Regions from separate parts of the Homo sapiens genome. Here region 1 is linked to region 2. A link means that fine-mapping ties the variant in region 2 to the expression of a gene that starts in the linked region. Tissue or cell type: whole blood. Region 2 holds a variant in brackets; the other region holds the start of a gene. All regions are shown on one strand. Distances are between the middles of the regions.

Region 1 (2,910 bases), 35 kb before region 2:
AAAAAAAAAAATCTATAGTTAACGATGAAGTATTTCTCCCTTTTGCTTTCCCGGCATCCACCAAGAGCAGTACATAATTTAATTATTGAATCTACAAGCTGGACCATGAGATGAAGAATGATGTGTCTGCTGTAGTGAGAAATTAGATAGAACCAACTGTTTACTCTCATCATTCTTCCTCCGTTAGGCTAAATTAATATAGTTAACAAGCTTTTGTTTGGAATAGCAGTTCAAATCTGGGATGTGCAGATCAGAACTGGCGATTATTACAGTAGCTGTTATTTATGGAGTGCTGACAGTCCCCTCAAGTCCCATGAATGAAACAGAAAGGGGTTCTTCTGTCATTCTCTGTGCTAGAACCACTGTAAGGGGCTAGACGTCTGCACAGGGTAACGAAGTTCATGAAAACCAGATTAAGTTGCTTGGGGCATACGACTCCAGAAATGTCACTGATGGTCTTTCCTATTGCCCTGTTTTTCTCATCTTTGAAACAACTGCAACAAAATGTGCACTATATAAGTGGGCGAGCATTACCAGGAGGTAACATGCAGGTGGGGTGCCTGTGCGGTGATACGGGTCGAGCAGGGCGCGGCAGGCTTTAGCAAACACCTCAGGCCCTTCCGCACAATTTGAGCAGAAACTGAAAGCCTGTCAGGCGCAGCCAAATGCAAATCTAGCTTCGAGGCACTGAGCCTCGAGGCACAGCGCCCCCGCCGGACCCAGTTCCCTGCCCCATCCAGTGTGTGAAACTGTGACCCAGCCACCGGCCAAGGGTCCCCACGGGGACGCTGCGACACAGCGGGCTCACTCCAGAGACCCAAACCAGGTCTCCCCACCTCCCGCCCCGCCAGTTTCACGGCACTAGATTCTTGGGGTCGTCTTTTAATCACAATCTCCATAGCCGTGTCTCTAAGCAGTTGATGGAACACGGATGGTGGGGAAAACCTCACCACCGCCACCACCACCAAACCAAGCAGCCCCCGACGGTCGTGCAGTCAGGCCCGGGAGCGCCCAACTCGCGGCCACCCAGCGCCACGCGTGACCCGGGCAGCGGGGCGACCTCGGGGCGGTCTGGCACCCGGGAAGTAGTTTGTGCTCGGGCTCTGAACACCGCCGGCCGGACCGCGGGCTGCGTCACGGGGACCGGGAGGCGTACGGCGACGCGGAGCAGCGCCTTTGCGGCGTGCGACCCGCCCCCGCCGTCCCTCCCTCCCTCCCCTCAGGGCTTCGGGCCCCCGGGGCCAGCCGCCGTCCTGCGAACGCGCGGCGCCCGGGCCGCTGCCCCCTTCCGGCCCCGCGGCGGCCCCGCCTCCTCCCCCGACTTCCTTCCCTGAGCACGGCGGCGGCGGGGACGAGCACCGGCCTGCGCGCGGAGCCGGCACCGGATGGTGGGCGGGGGCCAGCCGTGCGGGTACGCGGCCCGCGCGCCCCTAGCCACCGCCGCGTGGCACCGTCCCGAGCGCGTGGCGCGGGGCGCTGGCTGCCGGGCGGGGGCCTGGGGCCGCGGACGCTGGGGGCGCCTCGGCCGCGCTCAGCCTTTAGATCGGAGAATGCGGGCGGGGTGGGGGCGCTCGGGGTCCCCGCAGTCACTCCAGGGTCGATTTCTCGGCGGGCGCCGCGGCCTGTGCGAGGCCGGGCCCCTTGGAGTGCCCCGGGAGGTGGTGCTGGGCGTCTGAACACCACATCCCTTCCTGCGCCCGTGTGTGGGTTGGGAATGCCGGGTGTAGGCCCTGGATCAGAGCTGACGGGGTTGCGAGCGGCGTGGGGTGTGCCTGGGACGGTGACCGGATGTGTCTTCCTGAATCGTTGTATTCGAGCTCCAGTTCTCTCTGTTTCTACAGCTGGGCCTCAGTCCTCACAGGGCTCTAGTGGGCGTTCAGCCACACCAGGAGAAGGCGCCCAGGGGATTAACAGGACCCTTCCCTCTCCTGCTCTTCCCTCGCCCCCCATGGCTCCCCCTCCCTCCTATTTAGTAGGTACTTCTCCAGCACCCCACAGCGATGATGGATGCTGGCCCTAAAGCCAGGTGGGAAACCAGGCTGATTCAGCACCTGTCTTTTCCTGTTAGGGGGGTTGCCAGGCCTCTCAGATGTGGGGCAGCGTAATCAGTGGGTGACCGTGGTTCCCAGCACCCACTCTCCACTGCATCCTTGTCTTAGGCACTGCCGCCCTGCACTGTAGCAGATGCCTAAATAAAGTGTGGAGCCTGAAGCAGAAGTTTTGGGAGATGCTTGCCTTCCTTTAGACCACATTCCTCGCCTTTCTCAAGATTTCTCCGTGGTACCCACCCCGTTTTTGTGTTGTCTTCCTTCCTTGCCCTTGTTTCATTCCTTTTGAAAGCGACCACTCCCCTGAAGTCCTAGGACCCCCTTCGTGGGCTCTCCCTGCCGTAGACAGTCTCTGCTTGCCCCTGGTAAACTACGTTCCAAAAACCTTGCTTTAGGAGTAGCACTTGACGTTTTTCATAGTTTCTTCTCATGTAATTCATTACTCGGAGTTGATAACTTCTGTCCCATCTGGATTATTGAGGAGAAAGGGAAGGGAAAAATTATCTGGTTAATATCAGAGTTGGGAAGGCTTCAGATGTTTTCTTTGAATCCGTCTGGCATGGATGATAATCCTGTGTGGTTTAGGTTAAGTTACCTAAGTTCTCTGAGTCTGTGTAAGATGGGATGGCACTGTCTACCTTAGCTAGGAGTAAGGCTTGAGTGACATGATGTGTATAAACTTTAACAATGTCTGGAATCTATAGATGATCAATAAATATTTCTTTTTTCCACCCTCCTCCTGTGCTGACTCCGCTTTGTAAGGGAGACAGGTAAAGGACACAACAATTTGTAGGCTGGCATAAAAAATCCTATGAGAAAGCAGTAAATAGATGAAATATTTGGGAACGTGAAGCTATAGGTT
Region 2 (2,910 bases):
GTTCATTGAATGATGCAGATCTTTCAAGACTTGACACATTTCATTATACAACGTCCCCAAATCACTTTTGTAAACATCACCACTAATTTGAGAAAAATCTCTCTCTTTAAGTACTGGGAAGCTGTCAAGTTCACAGTGACCGATAACAAGTTTTCCAAAATTCGGATTTTATCTTGAAAGCGTGAATTTTATCATTTGATCACTTCATTTCCCTCAAAGTGATAAATAGCTTACTTTGTTCATTTTCAAGAAAATGTCTGTCATGTCCCCAAATCTGAGTATCCACAGTCACTCTTTCTTTGAAGTAAAAATGGCATCCCATGAACAAAGGGGCTAGTTGAGCTTGCAACTCAAACAGGAAGAGCGTGGCACTCTTCCTAAGGACAACGTGCAGAGGTGCTTCATGCACGCTTCCCATCTCACCCAGGAAGTGTGAAAAAGATGACTCGTCAACGTGGAGGTTCCCTACAAGTAATACTTTTTCCTGCCGGCATCGCTGAGGACATCTTAAGGGAAATGGTCTTTTTACTTCTCTGCCTTTGTTTTCTTCCCTGAGCATGTGGTGGTGAAGAGTGCACGTGGGCGCCACTGCCTCTGATTCCTTCACCCTCACTTTTCCTCACCATTGCTTTGGTTGCATAGTGCAAATGTCCACACAGTGAAAAAAGGCAAAAAACATCTTAGTATTATAATGAAGATCATTTTGACAGGGTAGACCCCATGAAAGAATCTGTAGGCTCATGCTTTGAGGTGCCAGCTGCCTTAGATGACAGTACGGTTATAGCCCGAAAGGCACTTTGGAAGTGTCTGTTCGCTGTTGACTTTGTTCGTTCGTTCTCTTTCTTTCTTTCTTTCTTTCTTTCTTTCTTTCTTTCTTTCTTTCTGTCTGTCTGTCTGTCTGTCTGTCTGTCTTTCTTTCTTTCTTTCTCTTTTTCTTTCTTTTTTTTTCTCTGTCTCTCTCTCTCTCTCTTTCTTTCTTTCTTTTTGACAGAGCTTCACTCTTGTCACCCAGGCTGGAGTGCAGTGGCACAATCTCAACTCCCCACAGCCTCCACCTCCCGGGCCAAGTGATTCTCCTGCCTCAGCCTCCCGAGTAGCTGGGATTACAGGCACGCACCACCAAGACTTTGCCCCTTTCTATGTCTGCATTTCTTGGCCCGGATGACATCACCTGATGGGGGAAGAATTAGATTTTTTTTTTTAAAGAATTGATCATTTTCTTTTTACCTCTATTTTTATCTCCTATAATATAGTGAATATGCAAGGTATGATTAATATCATTGCTTTAAGAGAAGAAAAAAAATAGACAAACTCTTGGTATATACCAGGCTATCTTGGTTTGCTGCAGCTGATCAAATGAAACAGTTTGTTATGGTTTTAC[G/A]AATGAGAATATCACAGACTCTCTTCTAATTTAAAGCCCCTGTGTGAAAATGTTCAGTCAGGTCGCAGCAGTATATTTCAAGAGGATGAAATATTCAGCCAAGGTCTCTCTGCAGTCCAGGCAGACAGCTGGAAAGGTGCGCTCTGAGTTCTGATTAAACTGTGTCCCCATACCAGGGGCTTCCTGTTTCTTGCATCCTTTACACTGAGAGGGGACAATAGTTCTTTCTAAGCTTAGCTGAGGCTGATTGGCCATCTTCGCGGTAGAGCTTTTAATTACGTGTGGCAGCCCTAGAAGGGGTGATGAGCAACAGAGCAATCAACACCTGAGCAGCACATGTTGGCGCTGATTAGCGCGGCTGGTTAGAGCCAGGACTAATGAGGCTGAGGTCACGGACTCGGCCCCGTAGCCCAGGTAGCCCGGCCACCCTCCAAACGGCCGCTCCGCCTGGTCAGCTGCCTCACAGATGCTCGCTGCTGTCTGGAAAGGGGCCAGGGAGGCTCGAGCCAGCAGCCAGCACGGGCTCTTTGTGTTTAAAACCAAACAAAATAAAAACAGGTTCTCTAATGTACCACCCCCTGTGATCCTCTCTAGGAATATCAGACTTAATGATTTAAATTTAATTTGTTAGCCATTTGGTGGTTAATTTTTTTTATTAAAAAAACTAATGATTTATTAGCATTCTTATAATAAGCAACATTTAATATCTATTCATGAGAGTTCAAATGGATCAACTATTTAATTTTGTAATAAAATGAATCAGAAAAGTATTACTTAGAAGAAACTCCATACTGTGAGCGTGTTCTCTGCATGTTTTCTGACCTTGATTCTCCTGTATTGTTAGAGTCAGGAATGGAGGGAAATGAAGCTGATTTCAGCCTTTCCCCCCGCAGCTCTGCCTTCCAAGAGGGAGAGGCTGAGTGGAGGGCACAGTGGACTTTTCATTTAATTTCCCAAATTTCACAGACTCATAACGACTCTACGTTCCTCTCCTTTCTACTGTTTCCCTGGTGCCGTTGACAGAAACAGGCTGGCCCCAGGTCATACCCAGGAGGCAGAGGAAGGCGCACACTGGCATAAGATAAGTGCCTGACAAAAATACACATATAAATACATCCAGCCCTTTGCTACCGACTCAGAACATCAGTGCTCATGGGCACATTTTGATTAAGCAGCTACTACTGTCTTTAAAGGGGTGGGAGCAGGGAGGAGAGGGTTCTGAAAGGTTCTTACGAGAATCACAGGAAAAAGAGGTGAGGAGCAGCGTGGCCACACATGCCTCCCCCCCCCACCCACGAAAAAGTGGGGCTCTTTACCAAACAGCAGCAGCAGATTGATGAGAAGCGTCATGGCCGAGCATCTCTGAGTCACGGTGAGCACGCACAGAAGAGACCAAGGTGGAGTGTGCCCCTCCTGCCCCAAAGCACCTTTGGCTAAACATTGTCTGTTGGGTCGTGAGTAGGGAGGAGCAAAGTGAACAGTCACTAAATCCATAGCAGGGCTAAGTCCAAGCAGCACATGCTGAGGCC

What was found.
Region 1: DCTD starts here. The variant in region 2 is fine-mapped to the expression of DCTD in whole blood (TOPMed, PIP 0.98).

Annotation. Positions count from the first base shown.
Region 1 is chr4:182,915,789-182,918,698 of GRCh38, reverse strand. DCTD (dCMP deaminase) reads left to right here and starts at 1,313. Exons shown (of 6, transcript NM_001921.3): 1 at 1,313-1,388. RefSeq lists a silencer at 972-1,681.
Region 2 is chr4:182,881,018-182,883,927 of GRCh38, reverse strand. No RefSeq gene overlaps it. Among named protein-coding and RNA genes, the nearest start is that of DCTD, 35 kb to the left of the region's middle. The variant G/A (reference allele first, on the strand shown) is at 1,382.